4 linked regions of the Homo sapiens genome follow. The protein of the gene in region 1 purifies or fractionates together with the protein of each later gene. This does not show direct contact. Each region holds a gene or a part of one and is shown on either strand. Other genes may lie near its edges. The genes, in order: RBM28, MAK16, KNOP1 and ZC3HAV1.

Evidence for each region.
Region 2: the proteins of RBM28 (region 1) and MAK16 purify together in Homo sapiens (affinity purification with mass spectrometry; 2 studies listed by BioGRID and IntAct, with this or other methods). This does not show direct contact.
Region 3: the proteins of RBM28 (region 1) and KNOP1 purify together in Homo sapiens (affinity purification with mass spectrometry; 2 studies listed by BioGRID and IntAct, with this or other methods). This does not show direct contact.
Region 4: the proteins of RBM28 (region 1) and ZC3HAV1 purify together in Homo sapiens (affinity purification with mass spectrometry; 2 studies listed by BioGRID and IntAct, with this or other methods). This does not show direct contact.

The regions. Positions count from the first base shown.
Region 1 is NC_000007.14:128,333,886-128,340,910, forward strand, and holds part of RBM28 (RNA-binding protein 28), read right to left. Parts: intron 5,907-7,025; coding exon 5,748-5,906; intron 5,437-5,747; coding exon 5,342-5,436; intron 4,917-5,341; coding exon 4,841-4,916; intron 4,458-4,840; coding exon 4,365-4,457; intron 3,318-4,364; coding exon 3,246-3,317; intron 2,158-3,245; coding exon 1,962-2,157; intron 1,795-1,961; coding exon 1,658-1,794; intron 1-1,657. UniProt on the Homo sapiens protein: Nucleolar component of the spliceosomal ribonucleoprotein complexes.
Region 2 is NC_000008.11:33,480,951-33,488,183, forward strand, and holds the start of MAK16 (protein MAK16 homolog), read left to right. Parts: upstream 1-4,231; 5' UTR 4,232-4,256; coding exon 4,257-4,271; intron 4,272-7,233.
Region 3 is NC_000016.10:19,715,228-19,722,476, forward strand, and holds the start of KNOP1 (lysine-rich nucleolar protein 1), read right to left. Parts: upstream 3,001-7,249; 5' UTR 2,931-3,000; exon of another isoform or gene 2,854-2,930; coding exon of another isoform or gene 2,676-2,853; exon of another isoform or gene 2,124-2,675; intron 1-2,123. Other genes in the region: IQCK (IQ domain-containing protein K), read left to right, coding at 3,080-3,260.
Region 4 is NC_000007.14:139,043,705-139,050,729, forward strand, and holds part of ZC3HAV1 (zinc finger CCCH-type antiviral protein 1), read right to left. Parts: intron 4,150-7,025; coding exon 3,890-4,149; 3' UTR 1-3,889.

The sequences.
Region 1 (7,025 bases):
GGTTATGGGAAAAAGACATTTCCATATACTACTATGACAGTGTAAACTTTCTGGAAATACTGTATAGGACATAGGAAACTTTGAGGAAAAAACATACACATACAATCACACACAAATTATAAAATACACTACATTTTGAATGTGTATATGTGTGTGTATATGTGTGCATTTTGCTTATAAATGTATTAAAATATCTATAGATACACAAGAAACAAATAACCTTGGTTGTCTCTGGGGAAGTTCCCTAAGAAGCTGAGGATCTGGGTATAAGGGAGACTCACTGTTTGTTTTCAAGAACAGACATATAAGCTTATACATACAAAGAAAATATCTGGAAGGATGCACAAGAAACAACAGTGATTACTTCAGGGAATTGTTAGGATTGGTGAGAAACTTCTACTTTGTGTATTACACTCTTCTGTGTTGTGTTTTAACTTTTTATCATTATCATTTATCTGTCCTATAAGTTTTTTAGGTGAAAGAATGGCATGAGACAGCTGACTGTGGGTTGTAGAATACAGGATCTCAGAGTCCCTTCAGTGTAGAAGCTTCTTTGATTCTAAGGTGTATACCATTCTCTCCTCACAGAAAAAGCTTATTTCCTCAGATTTCTTATATGGTCAAACCAACATGTCAGACTTACTGAAATGGAATCAGAATAAAAACAGCTGAAATAAAAATCTCCACCCAGACAAATCAAAGAACCAGTTATTAGCCATTTCTCATTCTGTAATGACCTGCCTTCCTCAATAAACAAGTTGAATTTATTCTCAATAAAGGTAGCAATAAGGATTGGCTAAAGTTTTACAACATGTTCAAAGAGGTCCTTGTTATGGAACGCACTGTGTTCCCCCAAAATTCATACATTGAAGCCCTAACCCCAAATATAATTGTATTTGGAGACAGAGACTTTAGGGAGGTAACTGAGGCTAGCTAAATGAGGTCTTAAGGTTGGGCCCTAATCTGATAGGATTGCTGTGCTTATAAGAAAAGAGAGACCAGAGTTCACTGTTACTTGTTCTCTCTCTCCCCTCGTCAAGCCACAAAGAAAAGGCCATGCAAGCACATAGCGAGAAGGCAGCAGTCTGCAAGCTAGGAAGAGAGCTGCACCCAAAATGAATCAGCTGGCACCTGGGACTTCTAGCCTCTAGAGCTGTGAGAAAATAAGTTTCTGCTGTTTAAGCCACCCAGTTTATGGTATTTTGTTATGTCAGTCCAAACTGACTAAACAGTTCTTTATCCCCATCTCAACTCCAAGGAGTTGTTTAAAATCTAGCTTGATGTTGAGATGGTTATATCATCTGTTTCATCTATATTATCTGTATAAGATGCTGTTTACCTGGTTATTCTATCAAGTTGGACAATCCAGAGAGAGGTAGAACCTCAGCATTAAGCTAGGTTTTCAATTCCCTAAGAATCTTAACCCTCAAACACCACTCCAAAACTCACTTAAAAAACAAAACAAACAAAAAGGAAACAACAAAAAAACCTTTGGAAGAAAGGAGTATAAAGGTTTCCTTTTCAGCATTTAAACATAAATTTGATAGAACACCTTAGAGTCCTATTTAAAAAGAGATCTAAGCAGAACTGATGCTCATTTCCGTAACTTCAGTAACTTTTTTAAAGTCTAAAGACATTTATGAAAATCCAAACAAACCTTTATCCTCTTGCTCCTCAGTGCTGGTATCACTCTGAGCCAGTTCCTCTCCATCATCAATACTATCGCTTTCCTCTAGGTCACTGTCCTCCTCAGAATGATCACTGCTTTTTGCAGGGGCTGGTCTCTTGACTGCTCTGCAATGGCACAGATCAGAACTAAGGAGGTGGGCTGACAGAGGGCCTATTCAATTTCATTACACATGTCAATTCTGCAATGATGCAGGCAGAAAAAGGAGAATTTTTCCTCTCGGAGACAATCTTGAATCTTCCTCTGCTGTCTCAGAACAGGATGAGCTGCTTACCTCTTCTGAATTTGCACAGGCTTGGTCACCTTTGATTCTATATTCTCTTCCTCTTCATCTTCATCATCAAAAACCCCATCTTCTTCATCATCATCATCGTCATCATCATCGTTTTCTTCCTCTTCCATATCCTCTTCCTCTCTGCCCTTCTTTTTAACTGATTCCTGATGTTTAGATTCATGGCTCTTTTCCTCACCTATGGAGGGAGGTAAAGAAAGGAGGAATTCATTTAATATCCAAAACAATGTTATTTTAACAAAAGTAACCAATACTCCAAGTTCTTGGTTTCATCGGTTTTACAGAATTTCGTATATTTTTCTTACTGCATATAACAGGAGAAAGTATAAAGAAAAGAAAAAGCAAAAACAGAAATAAACAAAACTCTCAACACCCAGATTCCTTTAGAGTTTGTCCCATTCATCAGTCTGAAGGTTCATCTGGCCCAGACTGAAAGAAGTGGCAACTGAGCCTCTCCAAGCAGTCTACCATTCGTACATCATAGCCAGCAAAATGCTCACTAGGGGGCAAAGCCAAGCCATGAACTTTAATCTCAGTGCGTTCTATTCTCTGAGACCCTGGTGGCTTACCAGCCAATTGTTTTCTAAATAAACCTCAAGTTTTAAGTTTCTCTATTCTTAATGTTCCATCACTCCTATTATGCACAGCCTGGAAACAACAGCAAGTAAAGGGGACAGTGAACTCAGGCTCACTCACAGCCACTCCCAGGAAGGGGCTTAGACTCAAAAGAGCCTAGGTTTTGGGACCAGAGCACCAAATGGTACAATATGAATTGACAAACAGACCTGGACTCACTTCTGAGCCAGCAGGAATTCAGAGTTTTCCCTGAAAGCCCAGTCTCATTCTTTTGGTTAATCTTCCACAATAGTCTTACTCTGATAAGCAGGTTCTCTTACACTTTTTTTTTGAGACGAAGTCTCGTTTTGTTGCCCAGGCTGGAGTGCAGTGGGGTGATCTCGGCTCACTGCAACCTCTGCCTCCCAGGTTCAAGAACCTGCCTCAGCCTCCCAAGCAGGTGGGATGACAGGCGCCCACCACCAAGCCCAGCTAATTTTTGTATTTTTAGTAGAGATGGGGTTTTGCATGTTGGCCAGGCTGGTCTCAAACTCCTGACTGCAAGCAATCCACCCAAAGTGCTGGAATTACAGGCAAGAGCCACTGCACCCAGCCTTTTTCTTACACTTTTATCATGAACACAGGAGTTGTTTCAATACTCTCACCCAGGTTATACAACGCCCCTACTCACCCAACACTACCACATCTTACCTATAGCAGAAACAGACTGTGTATCTTTATATTTATCCTTTGCCACGGCCCAATCCACAGCCACTGTCCGGCCTGTCAAGCAGAAAAGTGGCATCAGAAAGGCTCTCCTTTTAAAAACCCTACCTCTGTAAATGACCCCTAGTCATCACAGACAATAATGGAACCAGTGGAGACAAAGAAACTGCCAATTCAGGGAATGCTGGTCTTAAAATAAAGCTCCTAGTCACTGCCTACTCCTTTTAACCCTTAACCTTTTTATCAATGAACAGAAATTTTGCCTTTCTACATAGCCACCACACCTGGGATAAGATGGAGTAAAAAAATAAAGAATTAGAACTATGTTTCCAGTTAGACTATCAGGAATCAAAACAGGCATTCTGGAATCATCTGCACCCTACCTGGAAGCTAGGACATCTCTACGGCAATAACTTCTTTTTTTTTTTTTTGAGACACAGTCTCGCTCTGTCGCCCAGGCTGGAGTGCAGTGGTGCCATCTCAGTTCACTGCAACCTCCGCCTCCAGGTTCAAGCGATTCTCCTGCCTCAGCCTCTTGAGTAGCTGGGATTACAAGCATGCACCACCACACCTGGCTAATTTTTGTATTTTCAGTAGAGACGGGGTTTCGCCATGTTGACCAGGCTGGTCTTGAACTCCTGACCTCAGGTGATCCACCTGCCTCCTCGGCCTCCCAAAGTGCTAGGATTACAGGTGTGAGCCACCGCACCTGGCCGGCAATAACTTCTTTAGGCACAGTACTTGATAAGTCAATATATAAATCACAGTCAGTTTAATAAATAGCCCACAGATGCTGAACAGTGATATAACCAAGGAGGAATCTAGATACCAACCTGCATCTATCAGCAATTATCTCAGGGACATTTTTCACTAGGGATTTAAAAGGACACTCTCACCAGATAAAAGAAAGAATACTGGCAAGGGTTCTTTCAAGTTTAACCCCAAGATCAAGTTCTAGAGTATTTCACCTAAATAGCTACCGTATTAGCAATGAGACTCTTAATAATGCAAACATCTTTTGAAAATGCAGAAAGTGGGTTACTACACTAATTCACCAAAACACCAGAAATATCTGGGTCAATGATATGGGTATAGAAAGCTTACCTTTTATCTCTTTCATGTTCATGCCTTTGAGAGCTTTACCTGCTTCTAGGAGGTTTTTGAACTGAACAAAACCAAAACCGCGCATCTTCCCATCTGTGTGCAAATGCACAAAGAAAGAAGTGAGAGGCAGCAGGAGGTAGCCAGAATACTAAGAAGTAAATTACTGCAATTCAGGCCCACAAGATGGCCCAAATTCTGCCAGCAGGTCAGGCCCTTCCCCAAAGCAATTGCTTACATCTTCTTACTGAGTATACTCTGACTTGGACTTGGGGAGAGCAAAACACTTTCTCAAACTAACTCGCCTTCTAAAACTAATTCTGATCCAACAGAAAATATCATCAGGGGAATAAAACCATTATTTGGGTTTTCATTAGATGTGAAGCACTGTGCCAAATACTTCATATATATCATATATGTTTGTTCAAGGGTAATATGTTAACTAACGTAATCCACACCAAGTGAAGGTTTATTAGTACCTGGTTTCCTAGGGATATTTACTTCCAGGACAGCTCCAAATTGAGCAAATACTGTCTTCAAGTCATCTTCTGAACACTGAAGCCAAAAGTGAAGAAAGAAAAAGAGAAACACAATCACAGCAAATTAACATAAAACATCAACTACTAAATTCATTAATTATGAAAAACATGAATGTTTACTTTTTTTTATTTTTGATACTAGGACATCAAATGTTTCTAAATAGAAGACATTTTACTTTGTACCTAAGAGGCAAAAACACAGACGTCTGAGAACTTTTTCTACCTTTTCTTTCTCAGTAGTAGTTTCCCCAAAAAGGAAAGCAGCTTCACACTTAGTGCCCTTATTACACAGGCCCACTTTCTGAATTCAACAGGGGTAAGGTTGATTCCCAGAAGGAATTAAGCCCAATTATACCATCTTGGTGAGGAGTTCTACTAATGATCACATCTTGGCTCTAAAAGCCTTCAAAACATGCAATGTTCATTTTCTCTCTCACTTACCTTAAAGCTCAGGTTCCGAATAATTAATCTGGCTTTCTTATCTGCCACTTTGGCTTTTTTAGCCTTCGGCTCCTTCTTTGGGCACTCTGAGTTTTCTAAAAAATAAGAGGTAATGGAATAAGTACTCGAAAATCACCCACTTCTACGCCAGAACATCACAGAAAAAAAAGCTACTGGCGACAGATGGCATTTACCACAGGGTTAAGTGTGGCAATAATACCAAGGAATACCAGATTTTTCCAAAGAACTAAAATGAGTATCACAATACACTGGATGATTTTGGAGATCAAAAAGAAATGCAAAAAGCTTTAAGTTCTAGAAGCTACCTCCATGCCTCCCTCTTTCATTTTCATAGTGCTCCTCCTCACCCTGGGAGAAAAACTTCCTTCAATTACTAGAAACTCACCATTTTTCCCCTTTTCCTTTGTCTTGTTCCTCAGTTTTTTCTTGGCAACAGTCACGTTGATCTTGCAACCTTCAAAGGTGGTAATCTCCTTGAGGGCCCTCTGAACATCTTCCAGCATTGAAAAAGTGACATAGCCAAAGCCTCGACATGCCTTACTCCCTGGAATAATGGAGTGGGGAGGGAGTGGAGGGGCAGTGTGAAAAGGAGAGAGAATCATAAGCCAAGAGCACTAAATGAGTAAATCCTCAAAGCCTAAGCTAGAGGATATACTGCCAACCCATCTTGCTATCAGTTTGCCAAAAGTCTCAGGAGGGCGAGAAACAAGGGTGGTATCAGTGGTTCCCTCCCCACTTTGCTTAGAAACTGTTAGCCTTCCTCCTCTTTTAATTTAGTGTCTTTGCTGTTAGCTCCCCTTCTTCCCCCTTTCTTGATAATCCCAAGAAAACAGAGAATCCATGACATATGAGGCCCTCAAAGAACTCAACATCAAAAAGAACAAAACATCACCAAAGAAGGCAGGAAAGGTAAGTATATGCTATGGTTTGAATGTGTCCCCCAAATTTCATGTGTTGGAAACTTAATCCCCAATGTAGCAGTATTGAAAGGTGGAGTCTTTAAGAGGTGACTGGATCAGAGGACTCTGTCTTCAGGAATGGATTAATCAATTTATGGATTAATGGGTTAATAGATTAATGGGCTATCATGAGAGTGGAGCTGGGGGCTTTATAAGAAGAGGAAGAGAGACCTGAGCAAGCACATTAGCATGCTCAGCCCCCTCGCCATGACACCCTGCACTGTCTGGGCATTTTGCAGAGTCCCCACCAACAAGAAGGCTCTCACCAGATACAGCCACTAAACTTTGGACTTCTCAGCCTCCAGAACTTAAGAAATAAATTTTTCTTTACAAAGTACCTAGTTTCAGGTATTCTCTTATAAGCAACAGAAAATGAATTAAGACAGTATGGTAGCTTCAAAAATCAGAACACAATAATGCAGTTACTCCTCAAAATAGATCAGCAATAAATGCCTGAGGCCCAGACAAAAGAACCTCAAACAATAAATACTGCTCAGAGAGACTGCAGATGTTATGACCACTATTACCAACGCCTTAGCTGTCGATATCAAATTAAACCTTTCCAAAGCAGCTGTGCATTCTTGTCTCATTTTATCTTTAGAACACCTCAAAATAGGTAAAGCAAATATTATCACCCCTTCTTTCCAAGTAAGTAATTTGAGATGGAAGACAGTAAGTGAATTGGTTAATGTCACACAGGGTGT
Region 2 (7,233 bases), on another chromosome or scaffold:
AAAAGAACCCTGAAAGTTAATAAAGAAAAAAAAAGAAAGAAAAAACAAAATAAAGTGATGCTAGACCTCTGATAATGACTCCCATTTCTTCCAGCTAGTCATTACATTTACAGAGAGAGGTTCTTTTTTTTTTTTTTTTTTTTTTTTTTTTTTTTTTTTTTTTTTAATGAGATGGAGTCTCTGTTGCCCAGGCTGGAGTGCAGTGGCGCAATCTCGGCTCACTGCAAGCTCCGCCTCCTTGGTTCAGGCAATTCTCCTGCCTCAGCCTCCCAAGTAGCTGGGATTACAGGCGCCCAGCACCATGCCCAGCTATTTTTTTTTGTACTTTTACTAGAGACAGGGTTTCGCCATGTTGGCCAGGCTGCTCTCAAACTCCTGACCTCAGGTGGTCCACCTGCCTCAGCCTCCCAAAGTGCTGGGATTACAGGCGTGAGCCACAGTGCCTGACAAGATTTATAGAGAGAGGGTCTAAATTCATTCCTGCACATCTCTTCCTTTTGGGGAGCTCTGTGGTTCTGCTAAAACAACAACAAAAAACTATGTATTTTTCTTCTCCTTAAATGGTTTATTCCTCTGATTGTATACAAGCAAACACACATGCTTTACAGATGAGCAACTTTATTAGGTTTAATCCTCCAACAAGCTGCCTTCCACACTTCAGGGTTTCGTGTGTGTGTGTGTGTGTGTGTGTGTACACTTCATAGGAAACCTGACTCTGCCCAGGGTTAGCTCTGGGAAAAGTTGCTGTGGGAGTGGCTGAAGGTGGCAGAGGCCTGGAAGGTAAGACAACGGAGACCCTGTCTCTAAATAAATAAGTAAATAGAGACCTAACAACTAATTTATTGTGAATTTATTATGTACCAGGAACTGTACAGGAGATTGTGGATAAAGAAATGAAAAGACATCATCCTTAATCTTGAAAAGCTCAACGTTGGCCTGGCTTGGGCGCTCACACCTGTAATCCCAGCACTTTGGAAGGCCAAGGTGGGCGGATCACCTGAGGTCAAGAGTTTGAGACCAGCCTGACCAACATGGTGAAACCCTGTCTCTACTAAAAATGTAAATATTAGCTGGGCATAGTGGAACACGCCTGTAGTCCCAGCTGCTTGGGAAGCTGAGGCAAGAGAATCGCTTGAACCCAGCAGGTGGAGGTTGCAATGAGCTGAGATCGCACCACTACACTCCAGCCTGGGCAACAGAGTGAGACTCTGTCTCAAAAAAAAAAAAAAAAAAAAAAAGAAAAGAAAAAAAAAAAACAGAAAAGCTCAAGGCCTAAGAGATAATAAACCAATAACAATAATACAACACTAGTGAGGAATACATAGTGCACTGTGGTAACAGAGGAGAATGCGGGTATGTATAGAGAATGTTGAAATAGCATTACATTTTCTTATCTTTTCTTTTCTTTTTTTTTGAGACTGAGTTGCGCTCTGTCACCCAGGCTGGAGTGCAGTGGTGCGATCTCAGCTCACTGCAACCTCTGCCTTGTGGGTTCAGGCAATTCTCTGCCTCAGCCTCTCGAAGAGTTGGGATAACAGGCACCCACCACCACGCCCGGCTAATTTTTGTATTTTTAGTAGAGACAGGGTTTCACCATCTTGGCCAGGGTGGTTTCGATCTCCTGACCTGCTGATCCATCTGTCTTGGCCTCCCAAAGTGCTGGGATTACAGGTGTGAGCCACCGCACACGGCTAAATTTTCTTTCATTCTTCTTTTGAACTGGAGATTACTTTTTGTTTGTTTGTTTTTTTAATGAGACAGAGTCTCGCTCTGTCACCCACGCTGGAGTGCAGTGGCGGGATCTCGGCTCACCGCAAGCTCTGCCTCACTAAATACTACATAATATCATGATAAATGCTTTTAAACTTTATATCAAATTTCTCATGTGTTTCAGTTGCAGTCAAATCCAGGGTATCCCTAGGGTGACCCCAGTGAGTCCCACTCCCTGGTGTTCATGTCTTGTATCTTCTCCTCCCCTCCAGTGAGGGTGGCACCTGTGACTTGATCTAACCAATGGCATAAGGCAAAGTCTATGGAAAGTCACTGCCATAATTTTTTAAGATTATTTAAGATTATTTAAGATTAACATTATTTAAGATTCTGTTTTAGCAGACTGGAATTTAACTCGTTGCTGGCTTGATGAAGTAAGGAGCTATGTTGAGAAATCCCATGTGGCAAGAAGCCACAGGCAGCCTCTAGGACCTGTGGGTGGCCTCCCGGACACACGCCATCCTTACTGAGACTGTGTCCTTCTTACACTTTTGTTATTAAAATGGTCTTGTTACTGGAAAGTGGTCCCCAATCAGACCCAAGAGAGGGTTCTTGGATCTTAAGCAAGAAAGAATTTGAGGTGAGTCCATAAGTTTCGTAAAGTGAAAGCAAGCTTATTAAGAAAGTAAAGGAATGAAAGAATGGCTACTGCATAGGCAGAGCGGCACCGAGGGCTGCTGGTTGCCCATTTTTATCGCTATTTGTTCATGTATTTTTTGAGACTGATTCTTGCTCTGTTGCCCAGGCTGAAGTGCAGCGGCTTGATCTCAGCTCACTGTAATCTCTGCCTCCCAGATTCAAGTGATTCTCCTGCCTCAGCCTCCCAAGTAGCGGGGACTACAGGTGCCCACCACCACGCCTGGTTAAGTTTTGTATTTTTAGTAGAGATGGGGTTTCACCACGTTGGCCCGTCTGGTCTTGAACTTCTGACCTCGGGTGATCCACCTGCCTCGGCCTCCCAAAATGCTGATTACAGGCGTGAGCCACCAAGCCCAGCCTATTTATTGATTATATGCTAAACACGGAGCGGATTACTTACGCCTCTCCTTTTTAGACCATATAGAGTAATTTCCTGATGTTGCCATGGCATTTGTGGCGCCAGTGGGAGTGTAGCAGTGAGGACGACCAGAGGTCAAACTCATTGCCATCTTGGTTTTGTGGGTCTTGACTGGCTTCTTTACTGCAATCTGTTTTATCAGCAACATCCTTATGACCTGTATTTTGTGCTGACCTCATCCTGTGATTTAGATGGCCTGACCCTCGGGAATGCAGCCTAGCAGATCTCAGCCTTATTTTACCCAGCCACTATTCAAGATGGGGTTGCTCTGGTTCAAATGCCTCTTGACAGTCTTTCTTTCCTTTTCTTTTTTCTTTTTCTTTTTTTTTTTTTGAGAGGTAGTTTTGGTTGTCACCCAGGCTGGAGGGCCACAGCATGATCTCGGCTCACTGCAACCTCCGCCTCCCGGGTTCAAGCGATTCTCCTGCCTCAGCCTCCCAAGTAGCTGGGATTACAGGCACCTGCTACCACGCCCGACTAATTTTTGTATTTTTAGTAGAGACGGGATTTCACTATGTTGGCCAGGCTGGTCTGGAACTCGCCCGCCTAGGCCGCCCAAAGTGCTGAGGTACAGGCGAGAGCCACCGCGCCCGGCCCGGCCGACAGTCTTTCTTCTATAATACGATACAAACTAGTAAAGATTTTCTTTTTCCCCTGGCGGAAAAGAGCTGTTAGGCTTCCAGATTTGTTTTTGTGGGTTATTAGACCTCTACTTTTCTTCTTGGTATTTTCCCTCCCTTATCAACTTTGTTTGTTGTCTCAAATAGGCAATGAGGAAGACACAGGTGTTTATTATTATTGGAATGCTCTTTCCATTTGGTCAGTGGTTTCTCAAAGCAGGAGGAATTCAAGTTCTGAGTTTCTAAAGTCAGGACCCGGTGCCGCACCCAACGTGGGCGTGGGGAGTGGCTAAGTCAGGGTCTGAGGGGCAGGGCCGGGGCCTGGCTGCGAGCTGGGGCCGGGGGACTCGGAGGAGCGGGGACCCAGCCCCGCCGCGCCGCCTGCAGCTTTCCCCAGCCTCCTCCCAGCAGAGGGGAGGCCCGACAGGGAGGGGTCCCATCCTCATGAACGGTCACAAACAGGGCGCTAGGGAAGCACGCCCGACCCCCGCGGTCCCCGCGCTCCAGGATTCGGCAGACTGCGCGCGTCCTGCCTCCCGCGGATCGCACTGGGTCCCAACAGGGTTCCCAGCTCCAGGCTGCGCCCATGAACAAGCCCAGCATTGCGGACGGGCGCGCGCAGACGCCAGCGTGGTGAAGACGCGGGGGCGCGCGCGCGGCGACGAGACTGCCAGGGGACGCTTCGCAACACCGAGAGTCTCAGCGTTTCTCGAGATAGGTGAGGCTGCGCGTTCCGGAACTGGTTTCCCGGAAGGAGCATGTCTGCGCCCGCGATCCGACCGGAAGTTGCACGCTGAGCCGCGGACACCATGCAGTCGGATGATGTGAGTCTCCTCCGGTTGTTCTTACACCCGGGGTTTGCGCAGGGAATTTTGCCCATTTTCGGACACTTAGAAAACGCGTACGCAGCGGGTCTGTTGCCTCGTGCCGCTCTGGATGTGAGGCTTCCGGAACCCCGATTTTCCAACATAGGTTCTCACGCGTGTCTAGCAGGGGTTTACTGCCCGCTGCCCCGGCCGGGTTGTGAGCACAGGACTCCGTCACCTCAGCCCATGGGGTCGATGTGTCCCGTCCTTCGTGCCTACCAATGCAGGACGTCGCGTCATGCTGTCAGCTGTCAGCTGTCAGCTCCGGACTTGGGGTGGGGGGCGGCCCGGGATTTGGCGAAGCTGACTCCAAGTTTAAGCGTCCTTCTCATCCATGTGCGCGTTACTCTTCCATCTGCGTTTCCTGTGTAGGCTTTTCTTTACATTTGCTCTACTTCTGCCTAAGTCATAATTTCGGAAGTATCCTAGATTCATTCATTGAGTTTTTTGTTGGAGAAATAACAGTGTGCTTACAGTGTGCCAGGCATTGTGGTAATTATTGAGGATTTGGTTAACCAGAAAAAATGTCCCACCTCTCCTGGAACACTGATGGGGGAGACACAGTAAACAAGTGAACAAATAAGTTAACAATTACACTATATAATCATACTATGAAAGAAAGACCAGAGATGATGAAGGACACTTCAGATAGGGTTACTCAGGGAAGGTTTCTCTGAACAGAAGATGTTTGAGTTGAGATCTAAAAGATAAGAATAAGCCAGTCACTGAGGAGCTGAGGAAAAAGCAATCCAGGCAGTAGGAACAGTAAAGTACAAAGAGTTGAAGATATGAGAGAATGAATATAAGGGTCATCAAAGTGACAATGTAAGACAGGTAATGAAATTAGATATGCTTGCCAGGGCGAGGTCATGCAGAATCTTGTAGGAAGTGTTTTTTAGGCCTTTTAATGATCTATGTTTGTGAAAAGTTGTCTAGTTGCTGTGTGAAGGACTTTTGGAGGGAAAAAATGAAAGCAAGGAGACTAGGGTATGACAAAGGTTGCTTCAAGCCAGACACAGTGGCTCATGCCTGTAATCCCAACGCTTTGGGAGGCTGGGGCTGGAGGATCGCTTGAGGCCAGGAGTTCGATTCCAGCCTAGGCAATAAAGTGAGACTCCATCTCTACAAAAAATAAAAAATTAGCTGGGCGCGGTGGTGTTCGCCTGAGGTCCCAGTTACTTCGAAGGCTGAGGCAGAAGGACTACTTGAGCCGAAAAGTCCGAGGCTGCAGTGAGCTATGATGGCACCACTGCACTCCAGCCTGGGTGACAGAGAGACCCTATCTCTAAAGTAAATAAATTTTTTTAAAAACGAAAGTGGCTTCGCCTAAGGTAGTAATTTAATGGTGGAGATGAAAAGAAATTGATGAATTTGAGACCTTTTACGTCAGTATAATTGACAAGACTTTGGTGATGGATTAAGTGAAGAAGAAAAGGAAGAAATCAAAGGATTTGGGATATAAATACATAGTTAAATGGTGATTTTATTTATTGAAGTGGGGGAACTCTAGGGAAGACTGTTCTTACGAGGGATGTGGAATTGAGAACTCCTTGTGGATATGTTAATATTTATGTTGCCTTTTAGATATTGAAGAGATGTCATATAAAAATCTGGTGCTCAGGAAAGAAGTCTGACCAGAAAATAACAATTTAGGAGTCATCCATTTAGAGATGATACTTAAAGCCACAAGCCTAAAAGAGCTCCCTTATTCTTCTTACCTGTTTCCTACCATCCCCCACCAGACACACCTATAAAATTCTTAAAGTGTGTTTTATTCTTTTGCCCTCTTCATATTTTTCCTTTAACAGTGGTAAAGCTTTTTTTTACCCCAGTTCCTCAAGGCAGCGCACTCAAAGGCTGTCATACTCTTACGCATGCTATGTGGCCTTTAGACCTGCTATTTTGTGATACTTTGTTTACATATCTTTCCCCTAACTAGATAGACGAAACTCTTTAAAGAGTATACTTTCTTTCATTCAGCAAATACTTAAGTGGCTACTGTGTGTCAGGACTTGGAGATGTCAGTGCCTTACATAAATTAAGTATATAATGCTGAATGAATAAAGAGCACATTAAGTACAGGAGGATAGCAGTAGATAGTTTTCTTTGCCCTCAATGAGATAAAATTATGGTATGTATATCTAAAAATCTAATACCATGAAGCCTTTTTTTTTTTTTTGGAGATGGATTCTCACTCTGTCGCCCAGGCTGGAGTGCAGTGGCGTGATCTCGGCTTACCGCAACTTCTGCCTCCTGGGTTCAAGCGATTCTCCTGCCTCAGCCTCTCAAGTAGCTGGGATTACAGGCACCTGCCACCACACCTGGCTAATTTTTCTATTAGTAGAGATGGGGTTTCACCATGTTGGCCAGGCTGGCCTCAAACTCCCAACCTCAAGTGATCCGCCTGCCTTGGCACTCAAAGTGCTGGGATTACAGGTGTGAGCCACTACACCCGGCCCATGAGAGCCTTTAATAATGGATAATGAACATAAGTAAAAAGGGAAAGTTACGAAGTATATAAAATGTGATTTCACAGAGTATGTCAAAAAAAGTCTGGAAAAATATTTACAGAATAGTAATGAAATTTTATCTCTGGGTAATGGAGTTATGATTATTGCTCATCTGTATTTAGCTTTTCTATAAGAATCTGCTGGGCTTTTTTGTTTTGTTTTGTTTTGTTTTGAGACGGAGTTTCACTCTTGTTGTCCAGGCTGGAGCGCAATGGCACAATCTCGGCTCACCGCAACCTCCCTCTCCTGGGTTCAAGCGATTCTCCTGCCCCAGCCTCCCGAGTAGCTAGGATTACAGGCATGCGCCACCATGCCCAGCTAATTTTGTATTTTTAATATAAACAGGGTTTCTCCATGTTAATCAGGCTGGTCTCAAACTCCTCACCTCAGGTGATCCGCCCAACTCAGCC
Region 3 (7,249 bases), on another chromosome or scaffold:
CCTAGGTTCAAACCTAAATGCCTCTCTCACCTTAAGTAAATCAGCTAACCTCCCTGAGCCTCAATTTCTCCATCTGGAAAATGGGGGAATATAACACCTCCCTCCTCAAAAGGGTGTTGGAGGGAGTAAATGAGATAACCCATGGAAAGGGCTTGGTACACTGTTAATTCCCTTTTTCTTTTTCTCTTTTTTTTTTTTTTTTTTTGAGACAGAGTCTTGCTCTGTCACCCAAGCTGGAATGCAGTGGCGTGATCTCGGCCCACTGCAACCTCCGTCTCCTGGGTTCAAGTGATTCTCCTGCCTCAGCCTCCCCTGAGTAGCTGGGATAACAGGCACCCGTGATCATGCCCAGCTAATTTTTTTTTTCTTTTTTAGGAGGGACGGGGTTTCTCCATGTTGGCCAGGCTAGTCTCAAACTCCTGACCTCAAGTGATCCGCCCGCCTCAGCCTCCCAAAGTGCTGGGATTACACGCATGAGCCACCTTGCCTGGCCTAGTTCCACTGTTTTTAAAATTTGAAGTTGATTGCCAACACTGAATGAGTCACAATGATGCACAGTACTGAGGGCACCCAGCTTGTCTTGGACAGATATCGTGGAAGCACCTGTGAGAATGGGCTGGGGTCCTCAATACCCATCAGTGTCCAGCTGGACCACTGCTCTCACTCCAGTCCCCAGCCAAGTTCCTGCACTAGACATTCCCAGAATCTAGAAGCAAAATATCCCAAAATATTTCATAGCAAGTTAGGATCATGGGAGGGAAAGGAAAAACTTCTCCATCCTGCAGCCCTCCTCAGCTTCGGAACTCAGAGGGTCCACACTGGAGCTGGCTCTCTCTTAGCAGCTTCAAAGAGCCAGGCCTGAGCTACAGGTCAAGTTCATTCATAACCCACTCCAGGCGCACCTGGAGAGTCAAGGGAATAACTATACTCATTCATTGCTGTCTGCCCTGTTTCCTGGTTTATTTCCAGTGTCCTGCTCAGTGCCTGGCACATAGCAGGTGCTCAATACATACTCACTGAATGAATGCACACATGCTAGGGATACAGAGATGAACAAGATAAAACACCACCCATCAAGAAGCAAGTAGGTGTGGGAGGGAATAAGGTGTAATACAATGATACAGGTGATAAAAGCAAGGACAGTGCTAAGGTCAGGGTGGTGGAGGTTGTGGAACCTGTCCTACCAGTTGTCAGGAAAATTTCTGAAGAACAACTGCAGGATGGTGGTATTAATCCCTGAGACAAAGGTACTGAAGGCAAGTGGCTGAAGAACAGGCTTGATTGGACAGATGACTTGGAGATGTTCACTGGACAGGTGAATATATATGGATGAGGAGTTTGGGTGGCCGTGCTGACACGGGCGACATAAAGTTAGGAATGTATGGGTGGTGATAAGCCTTGAACAGAACAAGCCTGAGACAAGACTTCAAGAAATACAGTAGCTCGCCACCTAATCCCAGGTTTCCGTTACCCCTGGTCAACCCTGGTCCCAAAATAGGTGAGCACAGTACAGGAAGTTATCTTGAGAGGGAGACCACATGCATGCAACTTTTATTACAGTATACTGTTGTAATTGTTCTATTTTATTACTAGCTAGATTGTTGGTAATCGTTTACTGCACCTAATTTTTTGTGAGACAAGGTCTGGCTCTGTTGCCCAGGCTGGAGTGCAGTGGCATCATCTCGGCTCACTGCAACCTCCACCTCCCGGGTTCAAGCAATTTTCACGCCTCAGCCTCCCGAGTAGCCGGGATTACAGGCACATACCACCACGCCCGGCTAATTTTTGTATTTTTAGTAGGGACGGGGTTTTACTATGTTGGCCAGGCTGGTCTCCAACTACTGGCCTCAGGTGATCCGCCCGCCTCATCCTCCCAAAGTGCTGGGATTACAGGCATGAGCCACCACGCCCGGCCCTACTGTGCCTAATTTATAAACTTTCTCATAGATAGTATACACAAGAAAAAACAGTTATATTTAGGGTTCGGTACTGTCTGTGGTTTCAGGCATCCACTGGGGGTTTAGGAACGTACTGCCCGCGGATAATGGGGGAGGGGGACTATTGTATTGGCATTTAAATAAGTGGGCAGAGATAAAGGAGCTTGCAAAGAAGAAGGTGCAAACCTTGAAATAGTGTAGTCAGGAGAGCCAAGACGACTTCAGAATAGGGGAGCAGTCAAGAGAGCCAAGACGACTTCAGAATAGGGGAGCAGTCAAGAGAGCCAAGACGACTTCAGAATAGGGGAGTGGCCAAGAGATCTGGTAAGAACAAAGAATCCACCGGGAGGTTGCGGGTCAACTCTTAATCCCCTTCTCTCCCCATCTCTTGCCATTTAGAAAAGTATAGCATCCTCCTCTTTAGCCCTGCGACCAAATGCATTCACTCTTTCAAGGAGAAAGGAAAAGAACGTTACAGTGCATCTCCTGCAAACGCAAACGCTTTCTCCAAAACCGCTTTTAAATTCCAGGGACAGCCTTGTGAAGATCTTTGTGAATACCCGACCTCGCAAGCTCCAGAGACTACAATAATTCACTTGCCCTAGGTTCCAAAGCCAGCAAGTGGAAAACGGAGACTGGAATTCCGCCCACAGGACTCCAAAGCCTGTGCAGCAACACCCCACTCCCCCGGCAGGATCACCAGCAGGACGCGCGGGAGCCAGGAAGTAAGATCCGTACCTCCAAGGCTCCCATGGGCCCAAGCCTCCGCATCAACAGACTGGGAGGGATTACGTGGGGTCCCAGGGCCGGCTCTGAGGCGGGAAAACTTTCTGGAGGCGGCGGCCTCAGGCCGGAGCGGGCGCACACCGACTGGAGGGGTCGGATTCAGGGATGTGGGTGGACCGCATTTCCCCATCTTCCCCGCCGCGCACTTCCTCTGGTGCAATCTCCACACCCCGCGCCGGCCCGCCTGCAACGCGCCCTGGCACTCACCGGTGGGCGAAATTTCCCCGCCTCCACGTGAGAGCCAGCTCCGCCGTGACCCGGAAGTCCACTTCGAGTCGCCGGCCCACCCTCTCGGGTTCCGGCTTCTTCCGGGTCGCGGCCTTCCGGCGAACGCGGTTACCGTGGAAACCGCGGCCATGGCGGCACCGCGGCAAATCCCCAGCCACATAGTGCGCCTCAAGCCCAGCTGCTCTACAGACTCGTCGTTCACCCGGACGCCGGTGCCCACCGTGTCTCTCGCGTCCCGCGAGCTGCCTGTCTCGTCGTGGCAGGTCACCGAGCCGTCAAGCAAGAATCTGTGGGAGCAGATCTGCAAGGGTAGGAAACCTGGGCTGGCCGAGAGGGGCGGGACCCGGGCGGCCGGACGGGGGCCGCGTTTGGGGAGCGCCCACTGTGCGCCTGTCGGCTGACGGGCGGGGCCGCCGGGCAGCGGCTCCGCGGGCCCGGGCTCCGCATTTTACGCATGGGGAAACTGAGGCTCGGAGAGGCTGGCCCGAGGTTACGCAGCGCGGACTCCAATCGCGATCCGTAGTGAGGTTAAAGGCAAGGGAACGGCGAGGGAAAGCTGAATAAAGAGAACCATGCGGTGTGGACCATTGGTTCTTAAACCTCGGTTAGTGAACCGAAAGGAATTGCTGGGGCGGGGGCCGGGGTGGGGATCTTGTTATAAACGGAGGTTCCCAGGCCCCGCCCACAGAGCTTCAAATTGGGATGCAGGGAATCTGCACTTTTTAAAAGAGCACCCCAGGTAATCCTAACGTAGGTAGTCGGTGGCCCACACGTTCAGTAACCATGGTGTGGACAAACGGGTTTTAGTCCCTTCTTGCTTCAAACCTTCCTTAACCTCCCCAGGCGGAGTTGAGCACATCTTCCTTTGTGGCTCTACTCAGTATTTGTTACTTAGGTTGGGCAAATTATTTAACTTATGACCCTGTCTGCAAAGTGGGCATAATAATGGCACCTATTTCGATGGTGTTAAGAAGATGGAACCAGATAGTCACAAAAAGTGCTTAGCAAACTGCCTGATTTTAGGAGGGCAAAAGGATTATTGGGGAAAAAAAAACACAAACTGCTCGATTTACAGAAGGAGCTACGTAAGCGCTAGTTCTTAATGAATAATGTTGGGTGGGATGTTTTCTTTTTCCTCCACTAGACCATAAGCTCCTCAAGGTCAAGGACTCAGATTTTTCATTCGTGTGGCCACCATCACTACCTAAGCTGCCTGAAACAGCGCGGTGAAACCCCGTCTCTACTGAAAATACAAAAAAAAAATTATCTGGGCGTGGTGGTGTGCGCCTATAATCTCAGCTACTTGGGAGGCTGAGGAAAGGGAATTGCTTGAACCAGGGAGGTGGCGTTGCAGTGAGCCGAGTTTGCGCCACTGCACTCCAGCCTGGGTGACAGAGCGAGACTCCATCCCCAAAAAAAAAAAAGTGTGGTTAGTTAGCATTTGAAATGTGATTAGTGCAATTGAGTAACTGAATTTCTTGTTGGACTCAAATTTTTTTTTTTTTTTTTTTTTTGAGACGGCATGTTGCTCTGTCGCCCAGGCTGGAATGCAGTGGCACTGGCTGGGCTCACTGCAACCTCCGCCTCCCGGGTTCAAGCATTCTCACACCTCAATCTCCTGAGTAGCTGGGATTACAGGCACCCGTCATCATTCCTGGCTAATTTTTTTATTTTTGTAGAGAAGGGGTTTCACCATTTTGGCCAGGCTGCTCTTGAACTCCTGACCTCAGGTGATCTACCTGCCTCGGCCTCCCAAAGTGCTACAATTACAGGCCTGAGCCACCAGGCCCAGCCCAGACTTAATTTTAATAAATTTAAATAGCCACATTTGGATAGTGGCTGCTGTATTGGATAGTGCAGGTCAGTAAATGTTTATTGAATGGAAAAAAAGAATGAATGTACCAGTATATGCGATGACTCGAAAGAAGTGGAGAATACAGAGAAGGAAGAGAATAGTAGACTCAGTTGATAGATGCCCTCCAAAGCTGTCTGTTTCAACCCCATCCAGTACTTAAATTCCTTCTCCAACCTTACATTGTGCTAGAAAAATCCCTTTCATTTTGCATGTTCTCTTTGTCACTTTCACCCCTACGTCCTTACCTCTTGGTGCTATGATCCAAGGAGCTAATCACTCTACCCCAAAGAATCTACTCAGATAATTTGACGGTAGTTATTGTGGCTGCCTTTTCCCCAGAGCTTTCACTTCTCCAAGCCAAACAGTTTCTTATAATACAGTTTACTAGAGGATTGTTAGAAAAGTTACTCAGCCTCATCTGTAAGAGACAGATAATTGTTGTGCCTACCTCACAGGGCTGTTGTGGGGACCAAGTAAGATAATGTATGAAAAGGTGCTTAGCACAGTGCCTGGCATTTAAAAAGTAGTCAATAAATGTTCATTATTGTTGACAAAGAAACATGCCTTGTGTTGTGATTTACACACCGAGTTTATTTTGGTCAAATAGGCCTCTAGAGAGAAAGCAAAGACAAAGGGTTTTGGTTCTCTCTGAAGAGCAAGTGAATTGATGCCACTTTTAAAATGATAGAGTTACAGAATGAGGTCAGGCATGGTGGCTCACACCTGTAATCCCAGCACTTTGGGAGGCCAAGGCGGGTGGATCACCTGCGGTCAGGAATTGGAGACTAGCCTGGCCAACATGTTGAAACCCTGTCTCTACTAAAAATATAAAAACTAAGTCAGGCTTGGTGGTGGGTAATCCCAGCTACTCAGGAGACTGAGGCAGGAGAGTCGCTTGAACCTGAGAGGCGGAGGTTGCAATGACCTGAGATCGTGCCACTGCACTCCAGCCTGGGCAACAAAGTAAGAATCCGTCTAGAAAAAAAAAAAAAACAATTCAGTGAGGTCAACATTGGCAAACTATACACATGGACACTGTGATGAGTATTATAACAGATGGATAAACCCAATTCTTAAACATCTAACAAATGCAGTTTTCTATAACATGTAGTAAATTCAGTTTCTGACAACAAACATGAAAAAACAGGCTTTGTAGTAATCCTATCTTTGAGATTAAGTACTACATTCTCTTAAGATAATCTCCATTCAAAAGACAAATTATCATAGCAAACAGACCTGCCAGAAACTCAATTTCATGAAGACAAAATACAAAGTAGGTCAATATCTAACTTACACAGACCTTAACCAACCTGACTAGTGCTCTTTTGTATGTATGTGCATGCTCACCACTATAACTTATTTGTAAATATTCTTCAGTTTTCTCCCTCATCTTTCCAGTGACAACTGAGTTTTGTATTCTAAAAAGCACTCGTGTTAGTGTCAATAAACTTCTTCCCGGCCAACACTTCTAATCAAATCTTATAGTAGTTTGTGACTAGCTGTGTTCATGGTTTTAATCAAGACAATCAAAGGATGTGGGGCTTAACAGTTTCCTTTTTTTTTTTTTTTTGAGATGAAGTCTGGCTCTGTCACCCAGGCTGCAGTGCAGTGGCGCAATCTCGGCTCACTGCAACCTCTGCCTCCCAGATTCAAGCAATTCTCCTGCTTCAGCCTCCCAAATAGCTGGGATTACAGGCACCCACCACCATGCCTGGCTAATTTTTTGTAGAGATGGGGTTTTGCCATGTTGGCCAAGCTGGTCTCAAACACCTGACCTCAAGCAGTCAGCCCGCCTCATCCTCCCAAAGTGCTGGGATTACAGGCGTGAGCCACCGCGCCTGGCCTTACAGTTTCCTATTTTGATATGCTGTGATTACTGTTATCAGCATCCTCACTATTGTCATTGGTTCATCACTTAATCAAGCACTCTCTGGCCTCAGCCCTCAATGCTGTTGTAAAATCTGGCCTTTCATTTCACCTGCCAGATACCGACATGGATCAGTTGTGAATCAATACTTGTTCCTCCAGCACAGCCACTGAGCCAGCTGAAGAAAGATGACCCCAACTGGCTCTCAGCACTGCTCAGCAATCAGCATCTCTCAATGCCTTCTCCCATTGCCTGGTTCTACTAGTCCAAGTCTGTAACACCTCCTGAAATGTTCTGTGATACCTCTTAGCATAGGATGCGTTCACTGAGAAGAGTCAGGCAGTCAGGAGTGGGGAGGGAGTCTGCTAACATCCATCTGTACACGTGGAAGAAGCTCTCACCCCGCTACTCGCCACTCAGCTCTCCATCTTTGCTTACCGTCCCCTTGCTATTCCAGGATCCTGCTTTATCACTCACTTCCTCTGCTACGCCTTTAACTTCTCTACTAGCTTTTTCCTCCAAACACCCCTGGCCTGTCATATCAGGAAGAAACCTCCACCATGACCCTATATCCTC
Region 4 (7,025 bases), about 11 Mb from region 1:
TCAACCCTCAGGGGGCTTACATTCTAATGCAGAAAGCAGATAATTTCAGTTTGGATACATAATACAAATTATCAAAGCAAGGCGCAAAGTATTTTAAAAATAAGGGGTTTGGGAGGCCAAGATCTGACCTATTCTGTAGAAGGACTCCTTAGGAAAGTAACAGTTGAGCCAATCTAAGGATGCTAGATATTCAGTAGGTCAGTGGAAAAAATCAGTGGTTCTCACTGTGGTCAGTGGGTTATTGGTGGTTTCATAATAACTGGGGACTACTCCCAGCACTGAGTGGATGCAGCCAGGGAGAACGATGTCCTGCAGTGTGTGGGTTAGTGCCACACAACGAAGAATTATTCTGTACCCTGTACGACTGTCTAATGTCCTGCTGGACATTTAGGTAGGACCTACAGCTTGTCCGAGAGAGTAACTCATTTGTTTTCTCTGAGACAATCTGTAATTTGTCTTGTCCTATTATCCTTAAGTAAGGTAATTTCGCTCTTTCTTTTCCCATATACAGATTATGTACATAGTCTGTTTTGTCTTTACCCTAACACTGGTTTTCATTCTAGTGTCCCCCACCCGTCTAGTTTCATTTTCCTGTACTTGTTTACAGGAAGTAGCCTCTAATCGGCTCTTAAATCCAAACCTACTCATTACAAGGAAGAGTAAACATCTGTCTGTTTCAAACAGCGTAGTCATGCCTGAGCGTTTACATAATGAAATTCATCTTCTTTTCATTATAAATTTCTTCTTTTCTATTTCTCCTTAATAAGAGAGTTAGGGCATTAAATTGATTTTTTTAAGAAATTCATGTGTGTAAGTAGATTGTATTATCTATGAGTCATTTCAGGTCAGCAAAGAGAATGTTACAAAATATCTGCTCTGAAAAAGGTGAATAGATCTGATAGGGTTTGTGGTTGTCACCGTGACTGGGCGTGGGGGTGGGGGCGCTACTAGCATTTAGTATGTGAGAGCCAAGTATGCAGAACATCTTGCAATACATTGGACAGTTCCTCACAATAAGAAATTACTCTGCACCCTATACGAATTTTGAATGTCTCACTAGACATTCATGTATGACCTATAGCTCGTCTGCAAGAATATATCCTCATTTTCTCCACTTCGACAACTGTACATTTTCTTGCATAGTATCTTTATTTCAATAAAGGTTATTTCGTTCTTTCTCTTATATACAAATAAGTATTGTCATATGCAAAGAAGTTATTGTATCCCTAGTTTTTATTCTAATGCCCACTGATATCCCTGCTTTTACATTTTCCCACATATGATCTGATCTCCTACCTTCTAAGTTCAAATTGATGCATTATAAATAGTTGTAAGCATCTGACTACTTCATTAGGTCTTCAGTTACAGCTGTGCCCAAGTTAGGTACCTTTTATTTCCTCTTTATGTTCATATTAGTTTTATTTAATTTTTAATTTATTTCTAAAATTGTGTGTAGGTGGAGCATATTACCTCTGAATTGGATTTGGAGGATAATAAAGAAGATGTATTTCTATTTGTCGTTTAGAAAAAAAAAGGCAGAAATGCCCATTGAAAACCACTGAACTAGCTAAAAATGGGAACCACAAAACTGAAAGGAAGCCAGAGTGGCTTGCGCAGAAGAAACTAAATGATAGAGGGGTAGGGGAGGGAGAGATCACATGGGGCCATGACAGCGGTTTTGAACTTTATCCTGAAGACTTGATGTGTGTTTTGAATGTGCATTACTAAGTAAATTTTAAAAAATATAACCTTCTTGCTCTGAAGAAAACACAGCAAACAACTTAGAAGGGAACAGAGATATTTAAGAGGTAAAACTAGACTTAGAAACTGCTTAGATGTTTATCAGGAGGGAGAGGAAGGAGTCAAAGATGACTTCCAGATTTCTGCTTGAGCCAATGGGTAGATGGTGATGCTTTTCACTTACATACAGATCCTGAGAGAGGAACAGGTTCATGTGAGGGAGGTAGATGGAGAGTTCCACTTTGGACATATTGAATCAAAGATGCCTGTGAAATATCCAGCTAGTGGTGTCTAATGGGCTGTTGGAAAGAGTTGGACAAACTGCACCCCTACAATGTGAGGGTCAAGTTCAGAAAATGAACACTCCAAAACGAAAGTTACCATGAAAGAAATAAGTCAATGAGAATAAGCATTTGTAGTAACTCTCCCAGAAAATAACTCTACTCTAAAAAAACTATTTTTTTTTTTTTTTTTTTTTTTTTTTTTTACCGGTGGAGCTGTTTAAGCCAAGGAGTTGTGGAGATCTCTGTGATGATCCAAAATCTGACTAATATAAAATCAACTCTGATGCTAATTAAATCTGACTTATAACTTGTCTGCTAAAAGAAATTATAACAGGAAACTTTGGTGACTGGTAAGGAATGTTGAAAAGGGAAAATCAGAAGGAAAAACCTGGTTCATAAGAAGGAAGGAAATATTGGTCCAAGCACGTCAAGGGCTCTAAGTAAAAACCGATGGCACTACAATTCCACATAATCCATTACATTTGGAAAAAGAAGCTCCTGGTAGACACAGGGCCTCTTTGGGATATTGTTCTTTGTTCTGATTCTGTGCTCACCAGGAAACAAATTTCATCTCCGTAGGGGGCCCGTCCTTCAGTAGGAATGGCCCTGCTCCTAGGTTCTTGGCTCACTTGCCAAGACTACAATAGCACTCGCGTTTATCAGTTATGCTTGTGTGAAGCTGGTTATTGCAATTCATTGTTCTCAAAATACTTTCATGAAAAGCCTGACCTGAGAAAAAGCCTTCTCTGTAATCATATTAATTAGAACATAAATGTCTACTTTGCCATAATTATACAAAGAGCCCAAATGGGCAATTAACTCCAGTTGGTTGCTTCTCTCTGAGCCTTACTTGCCAGCTCTTATTACCGCATTCCAGAGAGAGTCAACCTGGATGGAGTTTGTCCCCTAAATAAATGTAGCGATAAAGAAAAGGGTGCTCCAAATCAGTTTCATCAGAATGATAAGGTACAGTACTGCAGCCATGTCTGCAATAGCACTTCAATTTTACTTTTTTTTCCCCTAGCATGTCCTTAAGCATTTTCTCCCCAGCTTTTCACAATCTTTCTTCTAAGGCTGTAATGTCTTACATCCTTAATAGGCATGATTAGATTTCTCCCAAATTTTCCAAATTAACTTTCTTTCAATGTAACCAAAACAAAACCATGGCATACAGTAAACTAAAAGGGTAGACAGGAGAGAAAGGTTGCTGCAATTACAGAAAATTTAGAAATCAGCCTTTACCAGTTACATCTGAGACAAGGTAAACTTTCCAACACATTGGAATCATCAGAAGGGCTTTAAAAAATACAACTGCCAGCCGGGCATGGTGGCTCATACCTGTAATCCTAGCACTTTGGGAGGCCAAGGCGGGCAGATTGCCTGAGCTCAGGAGTTTGAGACCAGCCTGGGCAACACAGTGAAACCCTGTCTCTACTAAAAAATACAAAAAATTAGCTGGGCGCGGCAGTGTGTGCCTGTAGTTCCAGCTACTCGGGAGGCTGAGGCAGGAGAATTGCTTGAACCCGGGAGGCAGAGGTTGCAGTGAGCCGAGATCGCGCCACTGCACTCCAGCCTGGACGATGGAGTGAGATTCAGTCTCAAAAAAAAAAAAAAAAAAAAAAATACAACTGCCTGGCGCTGACGCCCAGAAATGATTTCATTGGCATGGGGTGCAACCTGGGCATCAGAATTTGTTTAAAACCTCCCAGATGATTCTAATATGTAGCAAAATTTGGGGACCACTGATCTAAGACATTAGATAACTGAGCAGGAAAATATAAAACTTTAACTCCTGTCTGCGGCAATTTAGTTCTGTAAAGGAACAGAATGGTTATGGCATCCTTCTGACGCTGTATTCATCGGTTCTAACTAATCACGCAGGCTTTGTCTTCAGTATATTCAATCACATATTGTGGGTAAACCTGATCTTTCTGAAAGATGACAAAAACGGAGGGATTCGATCTGGTATCCACACAGCTGTCGAACTGTGGAGGAGGGCTCGTGTACGTTATATTTCCTTCAGTAAACTTTCCAACCAGAACTTGGGCTACAAACATAACGACGTTTTTGGCATCATACGGGCAATTTTTGTGGGAATAGATGGCATCTTTTGCAAAGTAAATTCCTAGAAAGAATCAGAAAGAAAAGTTAAGAAATATTATAAAAGAAGGTATACAGTTTATAAGATTTGTTATATACAGTCAGATGGGTGTGGACTAAGCATATGTCAATAATACCTTACTGATATTTATAAACTTTCCTTTGCACTTAAAAACATGTTAATGATGCAGGCGAACTTAAATACAGTATATAACCCTATAGAAATGACTGAGGAATATTTGCTACAGTGCAGAGCTCATGCTGATAGTGTGAGCCATTGGGTGCAATGACCAAATGACAATGTCACAGTGGCCCAATTCATGCAATTCACCCAGTGTGAGCTGAATGAGCAAACTTGGAACTGATGAGTCAGTTGATGCTTCGTCCTCAACTCTAAAACAACCTCAGATAACGATTGCTGCTTCCATACACAGCAGACCAACAATTTCCTGCCAAGTTAAAATTTTTATTTTTATCATTGTCAAGTGCTACTCTGGGCAGGTGCAGTGGCTCATGTCTGTAATCCCAGCATTATGGGAGGTTGAGGCGGGTGGATCACATGAGCCCAGGAATTTGAGACCAGCCTGGGCAACATGGGGAGACTCCATCTCTACAAAAAATTTAAAAATTAGCCGGGCATGGTGGCGTGCACTTGTAATCTCAGCTACTCAGGAAGCTGAGGCAGGATTGATTGAGCCCAGGAAGTTGAGGCTGCAGTAAGCTAGGATCATACCACTGCACTCCAGCCTGGGCAACAGAGTGAGATTCTGTATCAAAAAATACTAATAATATTTTCTAAGAAAGCTACTCTGTCGTTTTAAAGACCATGAGTAGATATTGCAACTCCTATTTCCATGCAAGAATCAATAAGTAAAATGAATTGTTTTACTTGTGGTAACAAATGTTTAATATACTTCCCATCTACTTTGTTTTTGTTCTTTTTATCATTTTATAGTTAGATGTTTGAATTCCAGAAACATTGCTTATCCTGAATAGGTCAGATACTAGATATTCTGTGCAAATGATGTTCTACTATATTTAAAGTAAAATATGGAAGTCTACCTATACTGACCTACGACGTCCAATCCCACTCCCCTTCCCAAAACAGTTTATGGCTGGCGGGAATTCTTTCACACCTGTTTCTATGCATTCACATACATATATGTGCATATGGTGGTTTATGGTGGTTTACTTGTTCATAAATAGGATCATAATATATGAACTGTTCTACAACTTTTTTTTCCACTTTAGTCCTAGAAATCTTGCTATGTCAGTACATCCAACTCTCTCTCTCTCCTTTTTTTTTTTTTTTTTTCGTTGTTGTTGTTGTTGCTGCTGTTTTTGAGACAGGGTCTCTGTCACCCAGGCTGGGGTGCAGTGGTGCAATCTTGGCTCACTGCAGCCTTGATATCCTGGGCTCAAGCAATCTTCCCACCTCAGCCTCCCATTCTAATCGGTGCGAGGCAACAGCTCATTGTGGTTTTAATTTGCGTTTGCTTGATGATTAGCGATGTTGAGCATTTTTTCATGAACTCATTGGCCATTTGTATTTCTTCTTTTGAGAAATGTCTATTCAAGTCTTTTGCCCATTTTTGAAACTTTTATTTGCATGTATTTTACGCTGAATTTATTCCCGTGCTGTAAGTTTTTGCTTCTTCAGTATCTTCTAGGATAGCTTTTTCTTCTGTGCACCTCCTCTTCTGGTTTAGGAACACGGTGTGCTTCTTCAGGAAGATTGTCTCTATGTGGCAGGGGGAGCTTAGGCATGAGTTAATCCAACCATGAGCTCTGGAAGTCTGGTGGCACATCTTGGGTGCTTTGTGCGCCTGAATATCCTCGACGACCAGAGAATCTACAGCTCAACCCTTACGTTCAGCATTACTCTCTGCATTTTTAAGTGTGTACAGCAAGAATTCAATTCTTTTGGGGTCACAAACTGCGTGCCCAGCCCCACTGTTTGGTCTGGGCACTCCTACCAACTCCACCCTCGTAACGTTGGAATGGTACACATTGTTTCCATACAGTGACATCTTTCAGACATTTGCTGGCTTTTCATATAGGCGTACTCTTGATGGCCTGGGCAGTTTCATGGGTGTCCTTAGAGTGAACATGAAGATTTGAACCTCTTTATTTGCATGATTTCATGGAGTTTTCTGGGTCAAGTGAATAGTGAACCATTTTCACAGATCACCGCAGGCCACTTATGGGAACAGCTTGCACATTTTAAAATTGAGTTATTTGTTCTCTTGCTGTTGAATTGTTTAAGTTCCTTACATATTTTGGATATTAATCCCATATCAGATGTATGGCTTGCAAATATTTTCTCCCACTCTGTGGGTTTGTCTGTTCACTTTGTTAATTGTTTCCTTTACTGTGGAGAAGCTTTTTAGTTTGATGCTATCTCATTTGTCCATTTTTGTTTTTGTTGCATCAGTTTTTTTATATCACACTTATATAATCTGGAATCTATATTTTCTTTTTTTAAAATTCCCTTTATTGTGTTAAGAAAGTTCATTTCTATTCCTACATTTCTGAGTGCTTTATTTTTTTCTTTTTTGAGACAGAGTTTTCCTCTGTCACTGAGGCTGGAGTGCAGTGGCAGGATCTCAGCTCACTGCAGCCTCCCCTTCTTGTGATCAATCAACTCTCATGCCTCAGCCTCTCGAGTAGCTAGGACTACAGGCATGTGCCACCACGCCCAGCTAACTTTGTATTTTTATTAGAGATGGGGGGGTTTCACCATGTTGGTCAGGCTGGTCTCAAACTCCTGACCTCAGGTGATTCACTCACCTCGGCCTCCCAAAGTGCTGGGATTACAGGAATGAGCCACAGTGCCTAGCCTAACATTTCATTTTTTAGGATAAATATTTGTTTGAATTCTAACATAGGATAGACCTGTAA